5 separate regions of the Homo sapiens genome follow, and all the other regions are linked to region 1. The links come from fine-mapping of genetic effects on gene expression. A gene starts in region 1. Each other region holds a variant in brackets. All regions are shown on one strand. Distances are between the middles of the regions. Region 1 holds the start of DAPK2 (death associated protein kinase 2). Region 2 overlaps DAPK2 (death associated protein kinase 2). Region 3 overlaps DAPK2 (death associated protein kinase 2). Region 4 overlaps DAPK2 (death associated protein kinase 2). Region 5 has its middle 27 kb from the start of MIR422A.

Region 1 (5,893 bases):
TGATGTACTGCCTGGACTGAAAAGTTCCAGATTAACACTGTTTTAGAAATCTTGGAAGTTTCAGTTGAGGGAAGGCAGCAGAGGGAATAGCTTCAGAGACCAGTAGGCAAGATTCATGTCACAGCTCAGCCACTTACAAATTGGATGAGTTTGAGCAAATCAAATTTCTCAAGCCTCAGTTACATCATCTGTAAAAGAGGATAATGACATCCCCCTAGAAGTGAAGCACTTGAAGTAAGATTATTGAGCATCTACTAAGTGCCAGGTGCTTGGGTGCTCTTAGGGGACAATAGAAAACAAGACAGCTATGGCCCCTTGTGATATTTACCTTCCTTAATTCAGTTTAAGAAACCTTTACTGGGTTTGGGATATCAAGCACTGTATGGGTTCAAAGATGGACAAGAAATTGTACTTGCCCTTGAGAAAAGGAGAAGTAGACACTAATTAAAATAGAGGAAGGAAGATGACAAGAGATGTACCAACCAAGAGTGGTGAGGTTCAAAGGAGAGAGGTATTTAGAGGGCAGACCAGGGAAGTTTCTGTGGAAGACATGATACTTTAGAAGGCTCTTAGAGGATAGATAAGATTTTGTAGAATGGGATGAAGGGTAGTGGAAACGAACAAAAGCATGGAGGCAGGAACAGCCAATAATCCAACCTGGCAAAAGAGCTGGATGTGCATGCAGAGGAGGGAAGGGAATGTGCATACACAGCAGGAAAATAAGGGTTGGGGCCTTAAATGCTAGGGTGAGGCATTAACACTCGATTTGGTCAGCCATGGGAACCATGCAGGGACTGGAACTGAGTTGGATAATTCTTAGCTCTTAATACCTGGACTGCCTCTGGCTTCATTCTGGAATTTGTGTCTTCATTGCCACTGTCCTCGGGGCCTCCCCTTTTCTGCTGATGGCCACCTTGGTCCTGTGTTCAGTGCCCTGTCGCTGCCCTCAGGTGAGGGTCTGATGAACTCACCCAACCTTAAGCATAAGATGCATCTCCAGATGGTAGCTTCCTAGATAGTTGCATTCTGGCAGGTACAGTGGAAGGGGCACCAGACTGAATCTGGAGGAGGCCTGGTTCTAATCCTAGCTCTGTCTCTCACCAGCTATGTGATGTTGGGCAAGTCACCTCCCTTCTCCGAGCCTCAGTTTCCTCATCTGAAAAGTGGCCAGGGTCAATTGACAATGACCCTTCCAGCTGCAATGGACTCTGACTAACTTGTCAATTGCTAAACCCAAGAATGTCTCTTTTGACTCATGTAAGGGGCTGCTGCTGCTGACAATGAGGTATTAAGCATGAGGCTCAAGGGAAAGAGATGGAGAGGCCACATGTAGGTGATCAGCAGGGTCAGCTGAGCCCAGCCTTGGATTCATCACAGCCCAGGTACTGGGTATGAGAATGGAGAAATCTCCAGATGATTTCAGCCCCCAGCTATTCAGGTGTTCCCAGTTGAAATCCCAGACACTGCAGAGCAGAAATAAGCCATACACACTGTGCTGTCTGAACTTCTGTCCCTCAGAATGCATGAACATAGTGAAACTGTTGTCCTGTGCCACCAAGGCTGGTAATGGTTTGTCACCAGTGATAGGTAAATGGAAATGGAGGAAGAGGTGTTTAGGGATAGTTTGGTGGGGGACTTCTCATGTTGGTGAAACTTCACCAGTGGGTGTCATTCCCTTAGGTCCGTTGACATCAGAAACCACCTCTAGTCTTGGATATTACTCTATATATCATGCTGCTCTTAGGAGAGGAGGCTCGCTGGCTGCACTGTTCTGAATTATTGTGAAGTTTATAAACAAGGAACTCTTTGCCGAGGATGTCCTGGACCCGGAGGCACTGCTCAGCTGGGGGGTGGGGTCCATCTGTATTTGTCCCAATGTCCAAAAGGCTGAAGGGTGTGTGTGTGCTCACACTGGTAGAGGTCCTCTAGGTGCATCTTACACACTCCATCTCATCTCAGCCCCACCATAGCTTCATTAGGAGCTACCGGAAGGTGCGTTTCTCCCACTTTACTGATGAAGAAAGAGCCATGCCCAAGAACACACATGCGGAGTGGCAGGGCAGGGCTTTGAACCTGGTGGTAGGACTCTGAATCTAAGGCCCTTTTGAGGAGCCCCATGGGTGACTTAGGGATGGAAATTCCAGGGGTTGGAGGGGTCCTCATTTGCTTCCTCTAAACAGCCTCTTGTTTTGAAATAAGACAAATGAACTTGGCTTAAGTTCTGTTTTCCCTTCCTTCCTCCCTTCACCCCCTCACTCTCATTCCTTTTTTCCTCAGGGATTTTTTGGCAGAGGGCAGAGAGAGGAACCCATTCCCAAGTCCTCTATTAGAGAAGGCGTGATGGTGAGAGGGGGGCTTCACTCAGCAACCGTGCCAGGACAAAGGGCAAACGAGGGCAGGCCGCTCTCAGGCTGGGTCGGGGGCAGTGAGGAGCAGAGCGGCCCTTCTCATCGCAGCCCCCACCTTGCTGTACGCTGTGGGCTTGAGGTTTCCAGGAGAGTCTGCGGTGTAGGGAGCGCTCTGGCTGGGAGGGAGGAGACGGCCTATTCCTCAGTGGGGCTTCCTCGCTCACGGTGTGTATGGTGGGGAGAGGAGCACACAAGTACCATTTTCTGAGGATTGTGCCAGACCATGTCATACGTATAAGCTCATTCAAATCGATTTCCAGATAAGGCCGGGGGAGGGTAGCCGACTTGCCCAAGGCCACGCAGCATGTGCGCGGTAGAGCCGGTAGGGACGCGCAGAGGGTCTTGCTACCGACTCTCCCCGCTCTCCCGGGAGTCTGGGAGCCCTGAGGTGTCCCCTACCCGGCCGGGAAGCTGGGCTCTCGCCCCGGGACTGTCCGGAGGGGGCTCCAGCAGGGGGCGCCCCGAGCCCCGTCCCGGGCAGCCGGGCGCGCCTCCAGCCGGCGCCTGGGACGGGGCTGGCCGCTCCGCCCCCTCGGCTCCTAGGCTGCTCGGCGGGCGGGTGCCGGGCGCTCTGGGAGGAGAGGACTGCAGGGCCGAGCCCAGCGCACCCCGCCGCGTCCCCCGTTCCCGCCGCGCCCGCCGCGCCCGCCGCGCCCGCCGCGCCCGCCGCTCCCGCCGCGCCTGCCGCGGCCGCGACCGCGGCAGCTCAGCCTCCCGCCGTGAGTAGCACCCGTCTGCGGGCTCGATGGGCGGGACGGGGCGCGCGGCCTGACGGCAGCAGCGCCCGGGTCTGGGGCTGGCGGGGCGAAGAGATCCGGGGCACTCGCTCGCAGATCCCGGGCCCGCCGCCCCAATGCCTGACGCCGTGGCCCGGGGCATTGTGGCCGGCACCCGAGCGCGGGAGCTGCCCGCCGCTGCCCTGGGGCGCCCTCCGGAGCCTGGCACTTTGACCTGGGAGACAGGGTAGAGGCGGCGGGCAGAGCCAAGCACCCAGCAGGGAGATGGGAGACAGACGTCCATCGAGTTAGGCCCCCTGGAACGGGCAGAGCACGCCCGGCTCCCGGCCAAGTCTTCTCAGCTTGGGCTGACTCTCTCACCTCTTGCTCCCGCCTGGCACAAGGATGTGATGCGAGGAGGGTGCTCAGATGTCTGAGCTTCCTCTGGGGCTGAATGAAGCTGGGGTCCCCGCCGTCAGGCGCCCCGGCCTGGGGTAGAGCTAGGATGGGCGTGGGGGCGGCCAGCAGGTGTGCTGCAGGTTGGGGTGGAACGGCTTGGAAGGGCGTTGCCAACAGTTGACTAGGACTCTGGGCTAGGCATTTTGGAGGTCCCAAGGCTTGCATAGGTCTGGCTAACCCTCACCGTAACTCTGCACGGTGGAAATTGGTATTCTTACTTTACAAAAGAGAAAACAAGGTCCAGAGAGGTGAGCCTCGTTGAGGCCGTGCAGGTAATGGTAAGGCAGTGGTGCACACTGGAGGAGAGGGCACCATAGCTGGCTGCCTCGGGGGCAAGCGGGCAGGTGCAGGGACAGCGCCTGACATCTTGTATCCTGGAATCCTGTGGAGGGCAGCCACTCTGGTTTCTGACACTGCGACTCCCAACTGCCTCTGTGGAAGATATTCCTGGGAGAGTCCTGTTGACCTAAGAGGCCGTGGTGCCTTGGCCTCTTCACAGCTAACTTCACAGCCCTGTCCTTCCCCAAACCGCTCATCTCCCAAGATGTTTTTTGAGCACCCTCAAGTGGCACCACTGATGATTCAGCACCTTCAGAGGAGACTTGGGCAGAGGGGTCAGGGGTGTGTGGATGTGGCTGGAGGTCTGCTCCTCTGGGGTAAGTTCCTGGCTGGCAGGAATGAGACCCGCACTGACCCTGCCCACCTCCTTGAGGCCTCCCGATTTGTTAGCTGTGGGGTGAACAAGCAGGCTTCCCAAGGGAGCTGGATCTTTGCCAGAGAGACCAAGTTTTTCTTGTGTCAACTCAGGCAGGTGGCTGACCTTCTGTGGGCCCCAGCTTCCTCATTGGAGACTGTGATGGGTCAAAGCCTGGAATGTAGAGAGGAGCTCTGTAATGCCGGAGCCCCATCCCTTCTGTTGGCAGCCTCTCCAGAGCCTGAGTGTGATGATTCCTAATGGGGGTGTGTGTAATGAGACGGTCGTGTGTGTTTTGCCCAACCATTGCCTGCCCTCTTGCTGTGGTCCCGTTTCACTCACTTGCACTTGGTGAGGTGGGATGAGGAACTGAGAGAGTTCACTTTGCAGAGTGAGCTGGGCCAGTGGTGGAGAGGGCTTCTTGAGTGTTGAGAGTTTCCTATGAGGTGATCTTCCAGCCCTAGACACCTCCTCCTAGCTTGTCCCTCAGGAGGCCACTGACTTTGCCAACCCTGGTGACATCTTGGAGGAGTTGGGGTGGCTATCAACAGAAGAAGCCCTGGGAAGAGGAGCGGGATGGGTCACCTGTATGATGCTCAGTGAGTCCCTTCCCCTTTCTGGATCTCAGCTTCCTCTTGTAAAAACAAGTGGGTTAGACCAGACAGCAGTGGTTTTCAAACTTCTGTTTCACAGTGAATTCTTACCCAGAACGCCAACATATAGTATGGATAACGTGGAACTGCTCTGGCTTCCCCTTCTCACCCTGGTGATCCTGAAGCAGTTCTAAAAATCCCTAAATAGATGATCTATGGGGTTCTAGGAAATCTGTGGTAGCCCCCTGAAGTGTTGCCTGGTATTAGAGTTGTAGGCAGGAATTTGAATTCCAAGGACTCCATCAGGAGAAACATGGGCATTAAGGTGGGTATCATCCTGGGAGCATCTGGAGCTGATGGCCTGTGCTTCTGGCCAAAAGTTGTAACTGTGTCCCTTCCCTCTGCCATGTGATTTCAGCTTTTCGAGGCTGGAAAGGTCCTTGTGCCTCTGGCTCCTTATCTGGGTCCTAGCTGGTGACTATAATTCCACTTCAGTTTCACCCCTTTAGTTTGTTTCTAAACTGGTAAAATGCAAATTCGCCTTAGGAGAGGTGTTAGGAAAGTGCTTGAAGTGGCTATCAGTTGTTTTACCTGATGAGCATCTGAGTAGCGGCCTTGAGAAAGGAGGCTGGGGAACTAAGTTAAAATCAGCCAACACTTATATAGTGCCTACTGTGTACTAGCCTACGACAAGGGGACAGAGGTAGGAATGTCACAATTCTTGCCCTTATGGGGCTCCAAGTCACAAAGAGGAGGGAAGGAATTCACGTTATCCATGGACCGTTTAAAACATTACACATGGGTTATCTCATTTGTCTCACATTAGTCTCATTTTAAAAAATTATGTAAAATTTTGATCACATACAAAATCATCCCATATATCCATCTAACTACCACCCAGATCAGGAAACAACATTGCTGGCACTCTGAAGCCTCCGAAGCTCCCCTTCCAACTCTCCCCTGAGTGAGGGGATAGCCACTCTGCTGACATCTAGCACCATGCATTAATTTTACCTAAATGGG
Region 2 (5,893 bases), 60 kb after region 1:
GTGACGTGGATCTGTGTCCTAGCCCTGTTCCCTGGCCCAATTGCCAGTCACTTTACTTCTCTAAGCCCAGTTTTCTCTCTCTCTTTTTTATTGGCTTTTTTTTAGAGACGGAGTCTTGCTTGTCGCCCAGGCTGAAGTGCAGTGGTATGAAGTGCAGTGGTATGATCATAGCTCACTGTAGCCTCAAACTCCTGGGCTGAAAACCATCCTCCCACCTCAGCATCCTGAGTAGCTGGGACTGCAGGTTGTGCCACCTTGCCTGGCTTTTTTTTTTTTTTTTTTTTTTGGAGACAAAGTCTCACCCTGTCACCCAGGCTGCAGTGCAGCAGTGCAGTGGCATGATCTCGGCTCACTGGTACCTCTGCCTCCTGAGTTCAAGTGATTTTCATACCTCAGCCTCCCAAGTAGCTGGGATTACAGGCTTGCACCACCATGCCTGGCTAATTTTTGTATTTTTAGTAGAGACAGGGTTTCACCATATTGGCTAGGCTGGTCTCATACTCCAGGCCTCAAGTGATCCCCCTGCCTCAGCCTCCCAAAGCACTGGGATGACAGGTGTGAGCCACCATACCTCTCCAGTTTTCTTATCTGTGAAATGGAACTAAAAATGATACTTGCAAATATTGAAAAAGAGAATGAATATGAAGTTAGCTCATTAAGAAAAAAGCTGGCCGGGCGCGGTGGCTCATGCCTGTAATCCCAGCACTTTGGGAGGCTGAGGCAGGCAGATCACTTGAGGTCAGGAGTTCAAGACCAGCCTGGCCAACATGGTGAAATCCCGTCTCTACTAAAAATAGAAAAAAATTAGCCATCCATGGTCGCGGTGCCTGTAATCCAAGCTACTCAGGAGGCTGAGGCAGGAGAATCACTTAAACCCAGGAGGTGGAGCTTGCAGTGAGCCGAGATTGCGCCACCGTACTCCATCCTGGGCAACAGAGCGAGACTCCAGCTCAAAAAAAAAAAAAAAGGAAAAGCTGGATGTAAATGTTGTAATGTTCACATTGCTATACAAAATTGATCCCGTGGTGTGACATTTGGTTCATGCCCTGTTTATTTACCCTTGACAGTGAAGACTTTGGGGGGTGGGGATTAAGCCAGGCTCCTCCATGAACCTTAAGAGCTGAGGTTGGGGACATTTCTGAGCACTGAGAAGCTGTTCTAGGTATACCCCTTTTAATGTGAGTCCTGGGCAGACAACTAGAGAGCCCTTATGAGGTGGCACCTGGGGGCCTGACAAGTTTGGAAATGAGGCCCATCTGCCAGTGACACTGATCTTGACACAGCCCACTTGTCCTCCCAGGTGCTGAGTGAGTGAGGAGCTGAGTCCTCTGCCTGGGAAGAGGGGTGTGTTCCTGACAGAATTGCAGGAGAGTGTGCTGGCAGAAGCGGGGTGTTTTCTGTATCTTGAGGATTTACTGTCCCTCACGAAACCATCCTACGTGACTTTTGCAAGCCAGTCTCAGGCACAGAGTTCCCACCCACCCACACCTCATGCTCTTCTGCAAGGCTGGATGGTAAAGTCCTATCTCAGACATTACCTCATGATTTCCCAAACAACCCTGGGAAGTGGGCAGGGCAGGTATTATCATCCCCATGTGACAAAGAAGGAAACTGAGGCCTGGGGAGTTGAACAGGCTGCCCAGGGTCCTGGCTCGTTAGTGGTAGGGCTCTGACTAGACTCCCAGTCTCCTGACACCAGCCCAGAGTTAGGAATTTGGAGAGTGAAGAGAAAGGGCTTCATTCCTGTTTAGAGTTGTCCCAGGCTCTTTGGAGCTGTCTGACAGGAAGCTTTCTAAGATGAGACCTGGGATGGCAGATGGAGAAACATGAACTGAAAAGGCAGCTCCCTGTCAAGCCCATGAAACTTTGATAGCAGATTAGGACGAGGAATCGGGCCTCCTACCAGCCCCGTGCTGCAGTAGACCATGCATAGGTATTGATTGTTGCTATGGGGGGCAGAGATACTGGAATATGTGTGCTTTGCATATGTATACCAGATTCCAGTATTCCCATCATTTTTGATTTAGTGTTAGCAATGACTTTCATTAGAGGTTGAATTGCTCCCTTCTGCTCCCTCCCTGGATGACATTCTGGGTGGCTCTGTCCTAAAGTAGACAGACCCTCGCCTCCCACCCATCATCCCTGTAGCCTAGCTGGCGACTTCTGCACTGTGGGACCTCAACTTCTGGCTGCAGAGCCTTCTGTGTGCAGAAAAAGGCCTGTTGCTGTCACCTGCCCTTGGGTTGGCTGGGCCCTCTGATGGGCATACTAGAGCCACCTCAGGTTCTGCTTTTGTGCATCTGCTGAGTACAGTGGCCAGGGAGTGCCTGACTGCAAATTTTCACTCCTGTTATCCTCCGAAAGCTAGAGTAATCTTCTGCCTTGATTTGCATATTCATAACACAGCAGTTAGACTGGTGAACCCCTCAAGCAAAAATCATGCTGATGGGAGAGACAACCCCTCCCCTCTGATTCCCTTTCTTTACTCCTTTCCTGAAATGATCAGATCAGAGAACTATGGGGAAGTGTAATACTGAAAATGAGGAACTAGTATGAGTAACAGTGGTATAGTTTCTTCATTTGTGAAATGGAGATAATCAGAAAGCTGTTGTAAGTCAG[C/TGGTTCTCAGC]CCTGGCTGCATGTCAGTTACCCAGCGGGCTTTTAAATAGCCCCATCTTCAGGCCCAGACCCAGGAGATCAGAATCTCTCAGGGTGAGACTTAAACACTAGGAGTTTTAAAATTCCCCAGGCAATATCAATGTGTGGCCTGGGTTGAGAACCACTGCTCTAGGATTTAAAGAGTTGGCTACTTGCTCGGAATAGAGCTATTTTCACATCTGGCTGTGCGTGGGAATCATTGGCGGGGTAGGGTGGTGCTTTTAAAATTAAACTGAAGCTGGGTGGTGTGGCAGGCACCTGTGGTCCCAGCTACTCGGGAGGCTGAGGTTGGGAGGATTGCTTGAGCCCAGGAGTTTGAGGCTGCAGTGAGTTATGATCACACCACTGCCCTCCAGCCGGGGCAGCAGAGCCAGACCCCATCTCTAAAAATAAATAAAATTAAACCAATTCCTTGGTTTCACATTCCAGACCATTTGAATCAGTGACTTATGTCTCTGGATGTCTCTTGCTCAGCCTTCACATGAACCACTTTTGAGTACCACGGGCCAACATTACAAATATTTCCAGTCTTCACAATTCTCTAGCAGGGAACCCTGATTCCCATTTGACAGATGAGCAAATCTATGTTCAGAGCAGGTGAAAGCATAAGTCTCTGAGGCCAGGCCTGTCTGATCTTGAAGCCTGGGGGCTGGGTCTGGTGGAGGGTGTTCTCTGCTCTTCTGGAAACAGCCCAAGGAGTGGGGGACACCAGCCAGCAGCCTTGGCTCCCTCTGAGGCTCCCCTCTACAGGTTGAGCAGAGGGCTGTGCCTGAGTGAAGACAGGTGAGACGAGTGGTGGTGTGTGGTATTTGGCGCCATCGTAGTCACCCACTCTCAAAATACCTCCTTTTGGGGAGGGAAAGATGCCTGTGCAGTGGGCCTGCCCCGGTCACCACTCATTGCCACAGCTGTCTCGCAAAGAGAAAACTCAGGCAGGAAAAGCAAACACTCATTTGCTTTTTGAGAGTTTGAGGAATTTTTCAGGCATGTGATATAGAAAAAAAATGCCACTGTTTCCCTCATAAGAGGAAGGGGAAACAACGTCAACATGGCCTGAAATGTTTAGCTCTAGTTTACAAAAGCCCTTCTGCCGTTTCACAAGTCCTAAGGCTGTCAACACAGTGCAGGGCTGGGAGCTGGGGGATTTGGATGCCAAGCCAAGCCCTGCGCCACTGCCTATGTGCTCTGTAAACCTAAGTGTATCCCTTACCACCCTTAAGCTTTGCTTTCCCCACAGGTCAAGTAGGAACTCAGGGCTTCTGTGACAAGGTCACAGGGACTCTGAAATGCCAGGCCCTGCCAGCGGCTGCTTGAGGTGTCGGAGAGGAGAGGCGTGTGGCTGCCTTGACACTGAGACTCAGAGCCACCCGGGCCTGGAAGCTCGGTCAAGTGTTTGTTGGCACCTACCAAGGCACCCGCTGTCCTCGAGGCCCAGAGTGGCTCCAAGAGACCATATGTGTTAGAGTTCACACTGAATGTGTTCACTCTGGCTCTGGGAGGCCTGGCTCCACTCCACCTGCGTCAGCCCTTAGTGTGTGCACAGCTCAGAGCCAATATTTGGAACTGAAATAGCTAAAAATTTAGAGTCAGTGGACGATGTAAGATAAATTTGGCTCCACAAAGCCTTCTCTGCCCAGTCCAGCCCCCAGGATCTTCTCTTTCCCTAGAGCTCCATCTGTACCTGTTGTCTGTGCCTTTGGTCCCTGCCCCGTAGTGCCTAGCACAGATCCTGGCACAGACTGGATGCCCAGACAGTGTTGATTGAATGGAGATTAAGGCAATGGAGAGATGCATGAGTTTGTGTTTGGGAACGTCTCTGAAGTGGCTGCCATAGAATGCTACCTAAGTGTTGGCCTATGTATCTGTTGCTTGCTGAACTTGACTTTGTTGTTGTTATTGCCACTCCGGGTATTTTGAAGACTGTCTCACTGAGGATGATGCTAATGATGGAGTGGTTCAGATGCAGTGCTATTTTGCTATTTTCTGCATTTGGGGCAAATATCCCAGGCATTTCCCTGTATGTAGCTTTTAACCCAGAGCCACTAAGAGTGTACCTCTTAAGTCTGGAGTCTGCTGGCCCCTTATTGAGCCATTAAGCTGAACCAGAAAACTTTCTGAGTTACTCAAGCAGTGGGTATTTTGGGTGGCAAGAAAACATGGGGCAATGATGGCAAATGGCAGTAAGGGGACGGGAGGACCCCCGGGCAAGATGGTCACTGGGAAGTCTCTGAGGACTTAGATCTGCTCCTGCTGGTCACTGAACTGAGGTGCAGAAGCAGGTGGTTGGTGCCCTTCCCTGTGGGGAGGGCCCCTGGAGCACTCAGGGAAGCTGGCTCAGGGCTGCCTGCCACTCTGCCATGGACTCCATTTCATGCTTGCTGTCTCTGTCCCTGGAGTAATGGGTTTCTGAGCCCAGCCCTGGGTACTAGTGCCTGAAGGGGAATAATAATGGTCTAGACTGCTCTAACTATCTCAGAGGCTTTGTGGACAGCCGGTTGGGTATCTGACTTTGAGGCTTGGCTTTGCCATTAACTCTGCGATGACCTCAGGCGAGTCACATGACCTATCCTTATGCCTCAGTTTCCTAATTGTACAACTCTCTGTTTATACCAAGTCCTCTGACTGTGATGCTCCCCCACTATGATGATTAACCTTGTTAGGCTGCCTCCTCTCCAAACTCTACCCAAACCTGGATCCCCACCAGCCCAGTCTGCTTATGGACATTGTGATTTCATCTGGTGGGTCCTAGACTTGGGTTCTAGCTGAGATTTTGCAATGACAAGGCTATGTCATCCTGATCAATAACCTTTCTGGGCCTCAGTGCTCACCTCTGTACACTGGGACTAAGAATACTAACATTCATTCCTCATAGAAGGAATGGACAGAAGGGAAGCCCAGTCCCTGCCCCATCTCATCCACAGGTTGTCATCAGGTGGGGATGCAGACTGGTGGCATGATTTGTCCTGTCCTGGCAGAATCACTCTGAATTTGTGTGACCTGGTAGCTGACAGTGGGGTCATTTCCCCAATGACCACAGTGATGACCTAATCTTGTGGGTCTGTGTCCCCACAGTGGCCAGTTTGCCATCGTGAAGAAGTGCCGGGAGAAGAGCACGGGGCTTGAGTATGCAGCCAAGTTCATCAAGAAGCGGCAGAGCCGGGCGAGCCGGCGCGGTGTGAGCCGGGAGGAGATCGAGCGGGAGGTGAGCATCCTGCGGCAGGTGCTGCACCACAATGTCATCACGC
Region 3 (5,893 bases), 52 kb after region 1:
TCCGTGCCCTCAGAGCACTGCTGGTTAACCTCTGCCCCTCTTTGACTCCAGTGTGGGCCATGTGGGTGAGGACAAGGGCAATTAGAGGCAGTTAGTGTGGGAGACTTGATGGGTGGGTTTTCTAGAGGAAAGAGACCATTTTAGAGGCTAGGGTCCATTTTAAATTGCAGCAAAGGCCGGGCATGGTGGCTCACACCTGTAATCCCAGCACTTTGGAAAGCCAAGGTGGGCAGATCACCTGAAGTCAGGAGTTCGAGACCAGACTGGCCAACATTGTGAAACCGCATGTCTACTAAAAATACAAAAATTAGTTAGGCATGGTGGCGGGCACATGTAGTCCCAGCTACTTGGGAGGCTGAGGCAGCAGGAGAATTGCTTGAACCTGGGAGGTGGAGGTTGCAGTGAGCCAAGATCGTGCCACTGCACTCCAGCCTGGGTGACAGAGCGAGAATCTGTCTCAGAAATAAAATAAAATAAATTGCAGCTGGGGTAGACAAAGGACAAATAAATCATGTTGGATTTGACACATACCTTTCCTGCGCCCTGACAATTAGGCTTGAAGGAAACCTGTCAGGCAGTGCCAAAGCCTGTAATGGCTTAGAGCAGAGTTGGAGGAGTGGGGCAGGAGTGGCAACCCTGAAGGCACCTGGGAGTTGCTAATTGGGGGTGGTGATGACAGAGGAGATGGCACAGTTGCACTCTGAGCCGCTTGCCTGACAGAGGCTCTGGTGTCTGCTGGGGAGTAGGGCTGGATGGGAGAGGTGTAGAGGAAGATGTGCTTCTAAGAGGACTTGGACCTGTTCCTTCTGTCCCCACCCAGCCCTCCAGGCTTGTGGGCAGAAAGGCTGGGTGTGGACCTAAAGCCAAATCTTTTGAGGGTGGGGATGAGGGAATAGGCCACCTGCAAGCGTGGGGGCAGAGGGGGATGGGGGTGGCACCATTTCATTCCTGTGATAAATGCTTTTTGCTCTACAATGAACTTGGCCATTAGGATCGGCTGTACATGATTGCCTGAGTAGTCCTCCCTTGGGCAAAGCCTTTCACACTTTGGGACTCCCTTTAGCCGTCTGTGAAATGGGCTAAGCTCCGTTTTGGAAGTCGTGCTCTGCTGCCCACTGTATTTCTCCATGCTCGTGTCCTGGAGTGAACGCTGCAGTGATGGCAGCACAGAACCACTTATGATTCCTCTTGCTCATGCATGTTAAGAATTTGAGGCAACCTATGATGAGAGGCACATAGAAAGCAAACATAAAAGTGGAAGATCAAAAGCCAGATGCCCTCCAGAAGAGTATGATTTAGCAAATGTGTAATAAGGCCCGGGTGTCTCATTTATTTTTATTTATTTTTAATATTTTTGTGTTTAGAGCCAGGGTCTTGCTCTGTTGTCAGGCTGGAGTTCAGTGGCACCATCATAGCTCACTGCAGTCTCTTGTTCCTAAGCTGAAATGATCCTCCCACCTCAGCCTGCTGAGTAGCTGGGACTACAGGCACATGCCACCATGCCCAGCTAATTAAAACAATTTTGGGGGGCAGGGTAGAGATGGGATCTCACTGTGTTGCCCTGGCTGGTCTTCAACTCCTGGCCTCAAGTGATCCTCCTGTCTCAGCCTCACAAAGTGCTGGCATTATAGGTGTGAGCCACTGCATCTGGCTGTGCCTGAATTTTTAACCAGCTCCCCAAATGATTCTGATATGCCCCCAAGTTTGAGAATCCATGGTGCAAAGGAAGAAGGAGGAAATACACCCAACATCTAGGTCATCATAGTTGTTGTCATTTGGTACCAAGATAACAAAAAGGAAATAAGATAGATGACATCATTTTCATTATCTGAAATGAGGTAGACAAACATCTTTCTGGTAATTTCTGAAAGAAAGCCAACATGTGAGTCCTACTGTAAAGGACACTACACACATGCTGAATAATTTGGGGTCAGGAGAGATGCTTTGCCTCTCTAAAGGGGTCTTGTGCTGGTTGCCTCACAGCTGTGGCCCACCCTGGGGGCACCAGGCACGCTCTGCAGCAGGACCTGCTCACCCTCCAATGCCATGCCTTCCTTTAGTCAGCTAACAGGAGGGACATTGCCCGGAGCAAGAGTGCAGTGACTTTGAGGAAAGGACCAGGTCAGGGGGACAAGGGATGGCAGTGGGTCCCCTGGGTCGTGCAGTAAGTTTGAAGGTATACCCTGCATGGAGTGACCAACAATGTGACCAGCAATGGCAAGAGTCACTGAGGCACAGAATTGCTCCCTTCAGAGTAGCCCTAAGACACAGCAGTTGGGTGATTGAAGTAACAGGCAGGCGAAGTGAAGGGAAAAAACTTGTTACCACCTTCTGATGCTGAGAAAGACCTATAGCTTCTTTAGACAATAAACCCATAACCACTCTGGCCTATAAGAAAATCAGTTAGGGAAAATCTTTTCAACATATTTGACAAAAGGTTAAATATCACAAATACATAAAGAGCTTTTACAAGTAATAAGAAAAAGGAATAGCCGGGTGTGGTGGTGGGCGCCTATAGTCCTAGCCACTTGGGAGGCTGAGGCTGCAATGAGCTATGATTGTGCCACTGTATTCCAGCCTGGGTTACAGAGTGAGACCCTGTCTCAAAAAGAAAACAACAACAACAACAACCAGGGATGTATGCAGAGATTTATACATGTGTGTATTTATAACAGTATCATAATATTAAAAATTGAAAATGATATAAATGTCCAAAATTGAGAATTTGCTTTAAAAACCATGGTTTACCTGTATAATATGATATTATACAGCCATTTAAAATTAGATATTAAAATAATTTTTAATTATATGAGGAGATGTTAATGATCTATTGTTAAGGGGAGAATTTTTAAAAAGCAGGCTTCAAAATAGTATCTACAGTACCATCTCACTTACATTAAAAAATGAAAAAAACAGGCCAGGCACAGTGGCTCACGCCTGTAATCCTAGCACTTTGGGAGGCTGAGGTGGGCGGATCACCTGAGATCAGGAGTTCGAAACCAGCCTGGCCAATGTGGTGAAACCTGGTCTCTACTAAAAATACAAAAATTAGCCAGGCATGGTGGCGGATGCCTGTAATCCCAGCTACTCAGGAGGCTGAGGCAGGAGAATCGCTTGAACCCGGGAGGCGGAGGTTGCAGTGAGCCGAGATGGAGCCATTGCACTCCAGCCTGGGCGACAGAGGGAGACTACGTCTCAAAAAAAAAAAAAAAAAAAAAGTAAAAAAGATTTCAGTATGTGCTGAAAAACATCTGAGGGGCAGACACCAAGATGATAACGATGGTTATCTTAGAAAGGTGGGACTAAGGAACATTTTTTAGCTTCCTTTTTGTGCGTTTCCTTCCTTCCTTCCTTCCTTCCTTCCTTCCTTCCTTCCTTCCTTCCTTCCTTCCTTTTCTTTTAACATTCTTCTTTTTCTAATCAAAAACAATCAAGAATGTTTTATTTGTAAGTGAGTCTGCCAATGAAGGGTTCCTGCTGCACTGGGGGCCAGCCAAGGATGACAAGGCCCTTTATCACACTTCCC[G/A]GTTCTTCAGCTTAGGTCATCATTTCTACAAACACTGGCTGAATACCTGTTTTGTGCCGGGTGCTGAGGTGGGCCCTGTGAGAGTTATGAAGATAACACCTCTTACTCTCCAGGCTCTTACAGGCTGGCTTATAGTTGAGTGCCAAGATGAATGCCCAGGTCATTTCTTATAGAAATACTTTTGTGGTGTTTGGAGAGTTCAGCATTTTCCTGGCCATGAAGATAGTCCCTGAGATCTGCTCTCCTTGCCTGAAGCCCTGGTCCTCCTTTGTCTTTGAAAATTTAGTTGGCTGACACGTGACAGATCAATGTCAGTAGCCTGGACCCATGGCTGGGCCCTGTGCGGTAGGAAACCCAGAAACCACCGTGTGTGTCTGTGGAATGTTTCATATGTATCAATATGAAACATATGATACCTGTGATACAGTATGTCACACACTGACCTGCATCAGAGACTCTAACAGGGATTGGCATGAGGACCTGAAAGAGATATCTTGGTCCAATCCTTCATTTTTGGATGAGAAAACTGAGGCCCCAAGGGAAAAGGAAGCTTGGAAGTTGGTGGTAGAGCCAGGACCCCTAACCCTGTACTTTGCCCGTGATATGTAGTCTTCCCCATTCACAGCCCTGCATGTCTGGGAGAGGCAAGCAATCTTGGGCATTTTCAAGTCATGGTGAAGAAATAAACATGGGATTAAAAATTCACAAACATTTTGAGAAACAGAGACCATCCATCCTAGATGGCTAAGAGCTGACTATATCAGTGAAAAACAAGATTCTTACATCAAGAATCTCTCAGGCCTTAAGATCCTGGTGGACAGAAAAAAATTGGGCAAGAAATAACTGGTTATGATTTGTACACCATCCATATTCACATACACAGACACACATAGCCCTCTGCAGAGCCACCTGTTTAATGTGAATCTTGGGAAAGTAAAAAGACCTTTCTATCTCCAAGTCATCTTACCACTTTGCCCCATGTGTGCCTAAACTTGCCACTATTCAAGCCCCTTCTTGGTCACAAATAGTGTTAAACTGTGAAGGTGTTTCTTTGGAGGGAGGTCAGGATAACCCTTAGGGATCCTTTGTCACCTTACATGAATTATGGGAAAGATCACAGGGGGTTGTGGGCCAGGAAGAGGTGGAAAGTTCACAGGAGGCGGGCTGGATGCAGGAGAGGGGAGGGCAAGTGGGGAGGGAGGTATTCTAGAACATGAATGGTTCACTTTACCATTTTATGAGGGGTAATCCTGTACCCCCACAGTAACAGGAGAGCCTCAAACCATCCTGGATTTTCCCATCTTCTTTCTGCAGTCTTTTTCCTGCGTGGCAGCACAAGCTCGTTTTTAAGGTATTATCCTTTGGTTCTGTCTCCTGGGCTTTGCCCAGGCTATGGGCCTGGCTGGCATTTCTAGGAGGGAGCAAACTGACCTGCTCTGTTGAAGTTCTTTTGTTAAACATACATCTGACTGTCAGGAACTCAGATGGTGGGAAGGGTGCCTGACCCAACTGAGCCCGACTGGTCCCTTGACTGCTTGTTCTCTCCTTCCCTGTGCTCCCACAAGGAGGAAAGGAAAGGGCAGGTTCAGCTTCCTGATGTATTTCCTTGAGAAAGTGGCCACAACCTGATAGGGAGGGAGTGAAGGTGAGAGGTTATTTGGGGCCTCCACAGAATGAAGTGCTTGTGTATCACTCCCTGCCTCTCCAGCTGTTGCAGATAGTTCTTTCATGCCCAGGCTATATTTCCTTTTCATCTGCGTTTGTCTAATCTCTGCAATAGACTATATAAGCCTTTCAAGTTGTGAGGTGTGTCTTGTTTACAGCACTTAGGACAATGATCAGTAAATGAGAGACAGATGGATAGGTGAGTGGACAGTTAGGAGGATGCATGGGTGGATGGTTGGGTGAGTACATGGGCAGGTGGGTGGGTGGTGGGTGGTACCTTCCAAGCCCAGCATTTCCTCAGTAACCTACATCATGTTTAGTGTCTAGAATCTAGACTCTAGACTAAGGGAAATATCAGAGGATACTGAGCTATATTTTCAGTGAAAATCTTTCTTTACGTAGCCAAGTCAAACTTTAATTGAGCCTAACTTATTTCAGGTCCTAGACTTGCAGGCTTGAGCTCATTTGACAACAGCATCAAAATGTACTTAAGTTAAAAAATAGTTGTCATACTTTAGCCCAGCTTGGCCCTGCTAAGTGATTCCTTCCTTTTTGTGCTTTAGTTTTTCTGACTCCCTGTACCCCGCAACAACAACAAAAAAATGTCTAGAGGAAGGAAGTTAGTCTGTAGGACCTGGGAATGAAACAAGCCAGCCTCTAAAAGCAGCTGCTGCAGGCCCATACAGAACAGCCACCTGTGAC
Region 4 (5,893 bases), 100 kb after region 1:
TCATGGGTGAGTAGCCAGAGGCTGTGGTTTAACAAATCCAAGTGCAACTGAGTTCAGGCCCTTTCCTAAGCCACAACTGTGGGTTTTCTGGGAAAAACATGGAGCTGCACAGCAAACTGATGAGGCACCAGAGCTAGGTTGGAAATGGCAAACCAGCAGGCAAGGGTGATTTCAGAAGGCACGCCGGCATCAGCTAGAGGAGGGGAGGCCATGTGGGAGAGTGGAGAGCACACAGGATTTGGGGTCAGCCTGTGCTTGAATCTCAGCTCCATTACCTATTAGCTGAGGCAGTGTGGGCAAACGATCTCTTGTGCCTTGGTTTCTTCATCTGTAAAACTGGGGTCAGTTTTACAGGGGTCAGAAGCAAGACAGCACTTGCTTCACAGGGTGAGGACAAAATGAGACACATGTGACTTCTTTGTAAACTGTGACAAAATGAGACACATGTGACTCCTTTGTAAACTGTGAAGTGCTACAAGTTTTGTTCTACACGGACCTCTAGGTTGCGTGTGTGGAGGAACGCAGGAGGAGTGTGAGAAGCAGGCCCTGCCTTCAGCCAGTGTGCAGTCTAGCAGTGATATGGTTTGGATCTGTGTCCCCACCTAAATCTCGTGTTGAATTGTGATCCTCAGTGTTGGAGATGGGGCCTGTTGGGAGGTGACTGGATCTTGGGGGCGGATTTTCCCCTTAGTGCCTTGGTGCTGTTCTCATGATAGTGAGTTCTCACAAGATCAGGTTGTTTAAAAGTGTGAGGCACCTCCCCTCTCTCTCCTTCTTGCTCCTTCTCTGGCCAGGTAAGATGTGCCTGCTTTCCCTTCACCTTCTGCCATGAGTGTAAGCTTCTTGAGGCCTCTCCAGAAGCAAAAGCTGCTATGCTTCCTGTACAGCCTATGGAACCATGAACCAGTTAAATCTTTTTTTTTTTTTTTTTTTTTTTTTTTTTGAGATGGAGTCTCACTCCATCATGCAGGCTGGAATGCAGTGGTGTGATCTCCGCTCACTGCAACCTCTGCCTCCCAGGTTCAAGCGATTCTCCTACCTCAGCCTCTGAAGTAGCTGGGATTACAGGTGTGTGCCATCACACCCAGCTAATTTTTTTGCATTTTTTCTTAGAGATGGGGTTTCGCTATGTTGGCCAGGCTGGTCTTGAACTCCCGACCTCAGGTGCTTTGCCCACCTCGGCCTCCCAAAGTACTGGGATTATAGGCGTGAGCCACTGCGCCCATCAGGTATTTCATTACAGCAATTCGAGAATGGACTAATACAAGTGGGGAAGGCAAGACTCACTCACAGAGCTCTTGGTGGTGGTTGGTGCTATGGATCAAGCTTGTTGCATGAATGGAGATGGGAGAAGGAAGAAGAGCTGGGCTGCATATCCAAATGATGCTTCTGGAGGAAAGAAGGTTTGGGCAGGGCCTGGAAATGTGGTTAGGAGTTCAATAGGCAGATGATAAAGATTCTCATTCTGGGAAGGAGAGACATCATCAAGGAAATAGTCACAGAGACTATGATAACACCTATAGGCCACTTTATATGCCTTGTTTGATCCTCCTAGTAACCCTCTTGAGATAGGTTTTATGATTGTTATTCCTAATTTATAGGTGAGAAACCTATGCTGAGAGAGGTTCAATAACTTGCCCAGTGTCAGGCTGCTGATAAATGGCAGAGCTGGGATCCGAACCCAGATTCCAAGGCGTGCATGCTTAGCCATTATCTATATTCTCCAAAAGCAGGATGTGTGAGAGATGCATATGTGACCGCATTGGCCCATTTCTTTATTTGTCCAGTAAACAGTAACTGGGCCCTGCTATAATGCCAGCCGCCCTTGGGTGCTGGGGATGGAAATGAAAGGCAAGGCCCTTGTCCTTCCTTATGGGGTTTTAGTATAGTGGGGACAGGACATGTAAGGAAGGAATTGTAGTGCAGCTGATTCTCTGCCAGAGGTGTGTGCAAGCTGGGGACAACTAGCTGTGTGTTGGAGGGGAGGGAGATCATAGAAGAAGTTCCAGTGTGTGTGGGAACTGGGTGGAGAGGGGGAGAAGGAGCTTGTCAGGAAGGCTGTTCCAGCAGAGTGAACTGCAGGGTGGGATGGGGTGATGAAGAGGTAGCAGAGAGGTAGCAGAGGGAAAGCGGGCAGGGAGTAGGAGGTGGGGAAGCAGGGCCTTGAATGCCACACAGAGGCACGTATTGGGCATGGGCCACACTGAAGACTTGTGGGGAGGGGCTGGCTGTGGTCCCATCGACAGTGTGTGAGGACAGGGAGCTGAGCACCCTCAAAACCTGTCCACAGAGGCCTAGCATGGAGCGGCCTTCCTTTCTCAGGTTGCCCAGCACTGCCTGAATAATCTGGGGCTGTGCTTGACATGGCTGGTGAAGATTGGTAGGCAGCTTCCTTGTCCCCACAGCACAGCCCTGGCTGGGCCTCTGCTTTGCTGAGCAGAGCAGCCTCACTCAGCAGCAGGCAGGCCACACGGGCATCTGGAGAGGGCACTGGGCTGGAGGTCCTTGCTCAGTGACCTTGGTAGTTTCTTGATGTCTCTGGGCTGCTCTGACATGAAGGGACTAAATGATCTCTGAGGTCCCTTGCAGCCCCAACATTGTGAGCTCCCAGGGATGACTGTTCATGCTGCATCCCAGAAAAGAATGAGCAAACATAGCCACTGTTGTCTGAAATCTCATTGGGTGCTGCTCCTTACATAAACCATCTCTCTCAATCACAGAACAACCCCGTGGCTCAGTAGGTTTTGCCCCCATTTTATAGATGGGAAACTGAGCCTCTAAGAGCTCCAGTGTCTGTCCAGTTTTCATACTGTGAACAGCAGAGCTGGGATTTGAACCCAGACTTGCCTTTGTCTTTTGTACTTTATGACATAGCCCCCCAAGGGTGTCTTCATCCTGCTCAGACTTCAGGACACGCTGTGCTGGGCCCACAGGCCATGGGTGCCCCACCGGACAACCACCTTCTGGTCGGCACCACAGCAGGCACCTCTGGCCAGATCCCCCAGGACACAAAGGAGCACGTTGGCCTCTCCCATGGGTGCCTCCCTGGCGGGATGAGCTGGGTGGGTTTGTTTTGACAAGGGTATTTCTGCCTCCTGGTGGCAGGCAGGCCCTGGGCTGGGCAGTGGCGGCACCTGTGGGAATGTGACCCCTCCCTCCAGCCGTGCTTTGGAGGTGATGTCAGGTATGTGGGTGAAGTATTTGGTTGAAGTAAATAAAGCTGGAGGAGAATGACAGGAGTGGGGAGTATGGATAG[A/G]ATCGGACTGCCCCAGAGGGCACTCTGGCTTGGACCCAGCAGTGTGTGGTTGCAGCAGCCTGTTCTTCCTGACCTGGGGCCAGGAGACCTGCGCCTTTACACGTCCTGCCTTAGAGCCCAAAGCAGTAGGAATTTTCACAGCCAGCTTGGGAGGTTGTGCCATCTCGAAACTGCAGAGCCCAGAGCTTGAAGGGGCTTTGGATGCCATCCACTGCCTGACTTACAGTTGGGGGGCTGAGGCCCAGAGAAAGGACGTGGCCTGCTTAAGCTCACATGGCCTTGGGTGGTGGAGCTGGACCTGCAGTTTTCCAATCTGCAGGCCTGGGCTCTTTTGCACCACCCTGCTCTATTTGGGGAGGGTGGAAGCAGAGAAGCTTAGACCAAATTCCTGGGGAACTGCCACTCTGCTGACCCTTAGCTTCCTTTTGGACCCTCCCTTAGTGCCGTTCCTTCCTGCTCCATCCGCATCACAGCCCTATAGGAGGAATGCACTCTGGAGCCCCTAGTGGTGGTGCGGGGCCTGGCAGAAAAGGAGGAGCCTCTGGCCCTGGATTCTTTCAATTCATTTCCTCAAATATTAATGGAACATGCAGGATGCAAGACGCCACAGGGGATACCAGGAATCCTAAAACCAATTTGAATTTTCTCAGGGAAAAGGCTGCCACCCAGGAAAGTGGCATCACCTGTGAGAGACAGCCTACAGCTTAGGACTGCCAGCAGGCCAGCGTCATCAACACGGAGGGGTTAGAGCACAGGGTTGGGGGAAGCTCAGGGAGAAGTAAGGGAGTTAGCTGGGTGGTCAGGGTGGCTCATGTCTGTAATCCCAACTACTCAGGAGGCTGAGCGGGGAGGATCACTTGAGCTCAGGAGTTTAAATCCAGTCTGGGCAACATCTCATCTCTTTTTTTAGAAAAAGATTCTCTCTAAGTAAGGGAGTAAGGGGAGGCAGGGTTGAGGGGGAAGAGGCTCTGAAAATGAAGAGGAGTAGGACAGGCATTCCAAGCCAGAGCAAAGGATGGAGTTGAGATGTCGTTGTGGAGTGGTAGTGCCCACCCTGCGGGGATATAGAGCAGGTACAGGCAAGGGATGGGTGGTGAGGCTGGAAAGAGAGCATGGGGCAGTCAGTGCCTTGACTACTTCAAATATCAGGTGGGGCATTTGGACTTTCTCCGGTGGCCAGTGGGACCACTGAAGATATTTAACCAGATTCAGTGATGTGTTGGGGAGAAAGGGATTGGACTGCCAGGGAAGCCCCCACCCCACTGCTCCCCACTGATTGTGACATTACAAGCTGTTGCACCTTGGCAAATCATTTAGCCCTGTGTGAGCCCCGTTTTCTTATCTGTGAAATGGAGTTTATAACAGTACCTATCACTCAGCGTGGCTGCAAGGATCACATAGAACACTAGCATCAAATTTGGCTTAGTAAACATGCTGTAAATGTTAGTCCCTACCCTCTGTCCTGGCTGTCATCAGGCTAATAGTGGAGCTTGGGACAGCAAGAAGGAAGCCTGTCTGAAAGCAGGTAGAGCTTCAGGTTTAGGGGCCCAAATCCCCTGGCCAGCCTATAGGTACCTTGGTGGCCTAGGAAGGAAGCAGAAACATGGCTGGATAGCAGGGAGCCATGGCCTCTGTTTACTCCCAATCAGGGCAGGTCTGAGTCTATGGGTATGTCTGGTCCAAATGGCCCAATAAGTGAATGGTGAAGGTAGGGACGAGAACCTGGGTCCTGACGACCCAACAGAGCATTCCTACTGCCCCACGGCCACCTTCCAGCCTGAAACCCCCAGGCTTCATCCTTTTATCCAGACCCAGCTTGGGTGTTCGCCCTGCCAGGACCTCCGTTTTCTCATCTGACTTGAGGACCTCCTGCTCAGGAGCTCCTGAGGCCAGGGATGGGTTCTGGGGCTACTCACTTGCATGGAAGCATCACCAGAAGAAAAGGCACCCTGGGGTAGGACACAGGTGCCAGAGGAGGAAAACAGCTGTGTCTGAGCCAGGCACGAGGTTGCCCCAGGTTGCCAGGCCAGAGTGGCATTGCTGCTTCTCTCTGGGATAGATTTTTTTTGTTTTGTTTTTTTTGAGACAGAGTCCCTCTCTGTCACCCAGACTGGAGTACAGTGGTACGATCTCAGCTCACTGCAGCCTCTGCTTCCCGGGTTCAAGCAATTCTCCTGCCTCAGCCTCCTGAGTAGTGGCAACTACAGGCGTGTGCCACCACGCCCAGCTAATTTTTGTATTTTTTTTAGTAGAGTCGGGGTTTCACCATGTTGACCAGGCTGGTCTTGAACTCCTGACCTCAAGTGATCCACCTACTTCAGCCTCCCAAAGTGCTGGGAATACAGGCATGAGCCACTGCGCCCGGCCTCCTGGGCTAGATTAATAAGACCCCTGAGAAGCAAGGAAGGGGAATCATTTAGTCTAGCGGTTAGGAGCACAAACTTTGGGGCCTGAGAGATAAAGGTTAAAGTTCCTAATGAGGGATAATACAAACTAATGTTATAGTCTCGGTTTCTTTTCTTTTTTCTTTTTGACAGGGTCTCACTCTGTTGCCAAGTCTGGAGTATAGTGGCACAATCATAACTTATTGCAGCCTCAACCTCCTGGGCTCAGGTGATCCTCCCACCTCAGCCTCCT
Region 5 (5,893 bases), 150 kb after region 1:
AAGGACCCTTGTCAGATTGGATTAGGGCCCTTACAGCCTCATTTTAACTTAATCACCTCTTTGAAGGCTGTCTCTATAAATACAGTCACAATTCAGAGGTACTGAGGGTTAGGGCTTCCACATGTGAATTTGGTGGGGACCTAATTCAGCCCATACACTGATGTGAATCTAATTCTTCATTTAAAAAAAAGTAAGTACTTTGCCTTCCTGTTTTACATCCAGCTTCTGAATACCCCTGGGAGATGGAGCTATGGGCCCAGCCTGGCACAGACTATCTTTGGTTTATGAGGTCAGGTGTGCCAAACCACCAGCAGGGCAGAGACAAGCATCTTTGTAGGCTTTATATTCCAGGCACCCTTGGGCACTGGACACCCTGCCTCTTTTCTTACTCAGGAGTTGATTGTCTGTGGAGTCCAGGGCCTGACTTTTCCTTCATAGAGACGTTGTAGTTCACCTCTTACGCGTGGTGGCGTGTGCCTGTAAGCCCAGCTACTCAGGAGGCTGAGGAAGGAGAATTGCTTGAACCCGGGAGGTGGGGGTTGAAGTGAGCCAAGATCATGCCACTGCACTCCAGCCTGGGTGACAGAGTGAGACTCCCACTCAAAAAAAAAAAAAAAAAATCTCCACAGTGTAACTCTGCTGTGGTTGGTGTGTATCTGCCTTTTTCACTCGTTTTTATAGATGAAATACTATTTTATGATGCATCCCAACAAGTATTTGTTAATTTCAAGACAGTAGTGGATAAAAGTGAGGTGCATGGGGGGTTAAGGTAAGAAAGAAGCTGGGAAGGCCGGGCACAGTGGCTCACGCCTGTAATCCCAGCATTTTGGGAGGCTGAGGTGAACAGATCACCTGGGGTCAGAAGTTCGAGACCAGCCTGGCCAACATGGTGAAATCCTGTCTCTACTAAAAATACAAAAATTATCCAGGCATGGTGGCGGGCGCCTGTCATTCCAGCTACTCAGGAGGCTGAAGCAGAAGAATCACTTGAACTTGGGAGGTAGAGGTTGCAGGGAGCTGAGATTGCACCACTGCACTCCAGCCTGGGCAAGAAAAGCGAAACTCTGTCTCGAAAAGAAGAAAAAAAAAAGAAGAAAAAGCTGGGAAGAATTATGTTGCCATTGAAACTTAGAAATATACTTCAAATAGCCAAAGAGTTTCATTGTTTTGGCTGCTTCACTTATTTACACACTTTGCCCCTGTGAGCAGGCACTGAGTGTTTGTCTCTGGGCTGGCTGGCAAGACAGAGGGTGGTGGAGGTGCTTGGAAGATCTGTCCGGAAGGGCCGGGCAGCCTGACGGAAGGTCGTGCAAGCTTCCCGTCTGTGGGTGCAAGAGGAAGCTCTGGATGGGAGCTCTTTGAAGGGAAGGACTGTGTCAGTTCATTTATGGGGCTCCACAGTGTGCTGGTGCCTGGCAGATGGTATGAAGATCTGAGGAGGAAAGGTGGGGTGGGAGGGAATGAAGGAGGGAATGAAGGAAGGAGGGAAGGAGATAAGAAGTGTGGCAGCCCCGGAAGTGCCTTCAAGAGAGAACCCGCAGCAAAGAGTGCTATTCACTGCTGGCCCCCAGCTGCCACCCCTTCAGGGTGTTGTATTAGTTTGCTAAGTGCCAGCTGACTTTTCAAATACTGTTCTAGCCTGTAGGTTTAAGTCCAAAGAGACATGAAGGCACCTGGAGCATGAGCTGGCAAACTCAGCCCAGTTGGCCTTGGAAGTTGTCCTCAGACCCACGTCCTTACTCAAACTCCAAGAGGAGGCGATGTTTGAGGAGGCAGGGCTGGGAGGGGCAGGGGTATATTCTACCCCTTCTCCTTAAAAGGGGAATAAAAATCCCAGCCCAGGTATTCTCAGAGCATTCTCAGAGTAGCCACAAGGTCTTCACTCTCCGTAGGCTGCTTTTGGCCAGTGATTGAGCATGGTGGGATGGGAGACACGCGGCGGGTACTCGAACCAGGCCATTCCTGCCCAGCATGGGACCCTTCTAATATTTGCCCCTGGACTGCTCATCACCTGGCTGAGCCCTTCTCTGGGTTGCTCTGCCATCAGAGGCACTTCCTAGCCAGCCCTCCTTCCTTCCCACCCTCCTTCCTTAGGTGTCACACCTACATCATGGCCTGAAAGCTCTCCCTTGCCTACTCCTGCTTCCTTTCCCCTTCATCCTTCATAGGCGTTCCTCATCCCACACCCCAGGTCTCCAGCACTTCTCATCCCATCTTGGCATCTGCTTCCTGAAGAATCTGAACCCACATAGGAGAGAGGGCAAAAGGAGGAAAGTTTGAATTTGCTCCTTCTTTTTGTCTCCACTGATTCCTTTGGCAGGCATGGACTGACACAGCCACTGCACTCACCTTAAAGCTGTCAGCTGGGGACAGTGGTGCACCTGTAGTCCCAGCCACTTGGGAGGCTGAGGCGAGAGGACTGCTTGGGTCCAGGAGTTGGAGGCTACATTGCAAACTATGATTGTATCTGTGAATAGTCACTGCAGTGAGACCTGTCTCTTAAAGAAAGACAAAAAGGAAAAGAAAGCTGTGAACAGAGCAGTTGGTACTCAATTCGTCTTTAAAAAAAAAAATCAATGGTGGGCCAGGCGCGGTGGCTCACACCTGTAATCCCATCACTTTGGGAGGCTGAGGCAGGTGGATCACCTGAGGTCGGGAGTTCGAGACCAGCCTGGCCAATATGGTGAAACCCTGTTTCTAATAAAAATACAAAAATTAGCTGGGCATGCTGGTGGGCACTGTAATCCCAGCTACTTGGGAAGCTGAGGCAGGTGACTCGCTTGAACCCGGGAGGCAGAGGTTGCAGTGAGCCAACATGGCACCATTGCACTCCAGCCTGGGAAACAATAGTGAAACTCCATCTCAAAAAAAAAAAGAGACCAAGAAGCATGACATGAGGGGCGCATGGGAGAAGCTGCGGTTTCTAACTCTGGGAATCTGGAGGACTATATGAACAAGGTGGACTTTAATTTGGCCTTAAAGGATGGGTGCTAAGAGAAGGGACAGGAAGTTATGGGTTAGTATTCTGATTGCTTGTCCTTACGCCTTCTCGTGGCTGAACTTTGGAAAGCTACCAATTAAATGAAAGAATGAGACTTCTGCGGGTTAACTGCACGGT[G/A]GTGAATTAGTAGTTCTACCATTTTCCCCTTCTCTGTCCATTGTGACCCTGGTTCTTGGTCAGAGACCAGAGGGCCCTGTCGGAGAGCCAGTGGCCATCTGTTGGGGTTGGCAGAGGCATTCAAGGTCAGGCATACGGGACAGATCTGATTCTTCCTGAGTCCTCTGGAGGAGTCTGTGTGTGTGTGTGTGTGTGTGTGTGTGTGTGTGTGTGTGTGTGTGTCTGGCTGTATTCGGGTAACTGTGTGTTTCTGGGCATACCTAGGCACCCGTTGTGGACATGTCTCTGTGGGGTGTGTGGACGTGTGTGGATGTGTCTGGGTGTTTGTGTGTGTGGATGTCTTTGTGTGTGTATCTGACTGTCCGGGGGCCTGTGTGTGCATGTGTGTGTTGGGTGTCTGTGCATGTCCGCGTGTCTGCGTTTGGGGTACGTTTGGGTATCAGTGTGTGCACATCTGTCTCTGTAGTGGATGTGTCTGTGTGTGTGTGTGTGCATCTGAGTGTGTGTCTGGGTGAATGTGTGTTGTCCAAAAGGACTCATGGAGAAAGCGCCTCCTGGGCCCAGGCTTTGCAGAATCTATTCTGCTGTCAGACCTCTGAGGCAGGTCAGAGTGACATTCTGGGCGATGTGGTTGAGGACAGCCGCATCTGCTGAGTCATAAGGATGTGGGCCCTGTGTGTTCACAGTTGGACATATCGCCTTTCACACCCACGGAGGGGAAATTTCAGCCAGGCTGGCTGACCCTGCATTCTTTCAGAAGGTCATGACCTCAAGTAGCCCAGGGAAGGAGAGGAAACAGGAATGCTCGTAAGACCTAGAGGTTGGCAGAAGGTGAACTGAGACCCAGGTGTTCCCCAGCTGGGTCCGCTGGGTCGTGGCTTTCTCAGGCCTTTCCAATAACTAAGCTGAGGGCTTTGGAACTGATGGGACACTTCCTGGTGGGGGAGGAAGCCCGGGCAGATTTTCTTAAATGATACAAACTGCCAAGCTCACCAAACTTTCACAATCGATGCTGACCCTGGAAAGCCCCACAAAGCCATAAGAGTCTAGACTCTGGAAAATCCTTCTCCTTCCTCTCCAAATCAACCAATCAGCAAATAAACACCACTACACATAGTATGCTTAGCTGCCATGCAATCAAGCGAGGCTTTCACGCTTATCGGATTTAAACAGTAACGTTTCCCCAGGGATGGCAGGGGCAGAAAGCCTCAGTCCCAGGCTTCTTGGTTGGAATGGGTTTCACAGGTTCTTTCCTAATATCAGATGGGGAGGGGTGAGGAGGGCATTTGCCCGCTGGAGCACACCTGGGAGAGCACCACTTGTGAGGGAAGGGTTCCAGCAGGACATCGATGGGAAACGCACATCAGGAAATGAACATCTGAGCATTTACATGCACCCAGCATGGGGAAGGCACTGGAGAATATTCTGCAGGAGGATATTCCTGTTCCTAAGGAGCCCGAGCTGGGAGCGCACCTGTGGATATTCAGCTTGCCCATAGATGAGCTGCTTCCCCTGGCCACGTGAGATATGGATGAGGTAAGGAAAGGCGATGTGAGTACATCGAGGTGGGGTTGGTCCTTCGGGGGAGGCGGTGATCAGAGGAAGGCAGGGAGGCTGGCCTGGAGCAGGAGGGTGTCACCACTGGTCACTCCTTGTATTCAGACAGTGAAGGCCACTGACAAAATGTCACACTTGCTGTGACCACTGGTCTCCAGTAAGGTCCAGCCAGCCTGTGGGGCCTTGTGGGTCTGGCATGCTGGGCAGCGGGTTTGATGGGGGGGTGTCAGGTTCTCCTGGGGAGAGAGGGCCCCAGGAGGGACATTGAGGTAGTCAGTACTTGGTCTAAGCAGGGGTTTCAGAGACTTTGTAGATGCTCGTCCAACACCACTGAAGATGCCCAGGGGCGACAGGGAGCTCAGGATCTCTTGGCAGGACCCTTAAGGGCTGGTGTCAAACTGTTCAGGTTGTTACAAGTTCTTTCTCAGGTTAAGCTCAAGTTTGCCTCCCCGCAGATCCATCCATTGTCCTGGTTCTGTCTTCTGGGGTCATATCTATTTAGCAAATATAGAGACAAAGATGGGAAAAGATAGTTCATGTCCTCAAGGAATCCACAGTGCAGTGACAAGGATGAAATAGGCGCTAAGCTGGGAGCTGAGGAAGGAGTCCTGTGTTCCGAGGGATGGGGGCCCAGGCAGGCCTCCAGAGGAAGTAGCCTTTGAGTGCGCTTCACAGATAAGAGGATTCACATGGGTGGAGGGGGCTGCAGAGTCCAGGCCAGGAACAGCTTGAGCAAAGACACAGAGGTAGGAGAGAGCAAGGTATCCCCTGGGGACGCGGGGCACCCTGTTGGGGTGGGGCCTGCTGCGGTGGGGAAGGGGGCTAGATAAAGAGGGGCTTCAACCCAGGCTTAGGCCTTTATTCAGCAAGCTATGGGGAGGGTTGAGAGGTTTCGTGAGACTTTATCAGAGCTGTGGCTAAGATCAGGGGTTCTCAAAGTGTGGTCCCTGGCCAGCAGCATTAGGGTCATCTGGGAACTTAGAAATGCAAATTCTCCAGCTGCCTCCCAGACCTCCTAGATCAGAAACTCTGAGGGTACTTTAATAGGCCCTCCAGGTGATTCTGATGTGCTGCTTTAGAAAAACAACCCGAGAGCTGAGGGAGAGAGGGGAGGTGGGGGGAGCCTGGAAGAGGCCGCAGGTGCTGCTGCATCCTCAAAAAGCAATCACAGCTGGAAGATGGACCCGAGCATGGGAGGAGATATCACTAACAACGCTC

What was found.
Region 2: its variant is fine-mapped to the expression of DAPK2 in whole blood (TOPMed, PIP above 0.99). The same link has a PIP of 0.9 or more in lymphoblastoid cells.
Region 3: its variant is fine-mapped to the expression of DAPK2 in lymphoblastoid cells (TwinsUK, PIP 0.95).
Region 4: its variant is fine-mapped to the expression of DAPK2 in whole blood (TOPMed, PIP above 0.99).
Region 5: its variant is fine-mapped to the expression of DAPK2 in whole blood (INTERVAL, PIP 0.97).

What each region holds. Positions count from the first base shown.
Region 1 is chr15:64,043,532-64,049,424 of GRCh38, reverse strand. DAPK2 (death associated protein kinase 2) reads left to right here and starts at 2,940. Exons shown (of 12, transcript NM_014326.5): 1 at 2,940-3,127. RefSeq lists silencers at 2,767-2,976, 2,997-3,056, 3,087-3,306 and enhancers at 4,507-4,556, 4,607-4,656.
Region 2 is chr15:63,983,582-63,989,474 of GRCh38, reverse strand. DAPK2 (death associated protein kinase 2) reads left to right here. Exons shown (of 12, transcript NM_014326.5): 3 at 5,721-5,893. Among named protein-coding and RNA genes, the nearest start is that of DAPK2, 60 kb to the left of the region's middle. RefSeq lists an enhancer at 3,534-4,035. The variant C/TGGTTCTCAGC (reference allele first, on the strand shown) is at 2,620.
Region 3 is chr15:63,991,912-63,997,804 of GRCh38, reverse strand. The region is part of intron 2 of DAPK2 (death associated protein kinase 2); the gene reads left to right. Among named protein-coding and RNA genes, the nearest start is that of DAPK2, 52 kb to the left of the region's middle. The variant G/A (reference allele first, on the strand shown) is at 3,527.
Region 4 is chr15:63,943,321-63,949,213 of GRCh38, reverse strand. The region is part of intron 4 of DAPK2 (death associated protein kinase 2); the gene reads left to right. Among named protein-coding and RNA genes, the nearest start is that of MIR422A, 75 kb to the right of the region's middle. The variant A/G (reference allele first, on the strand shown) is at 3,257.
Region 5 is chr15:63,894,867-63,900,759 of GRCh38, reverse strand. No RefSeq gene overlaps it. Among named protein-coding and RNA genes, the nearest start is that of MIR422A, 27 kb to the right of the region's middle. RefSeq lists enhancers at 3,652-3,701, 3,902-3,951. The variant G/A (reference allele first, on the strand shown) is at 3,119.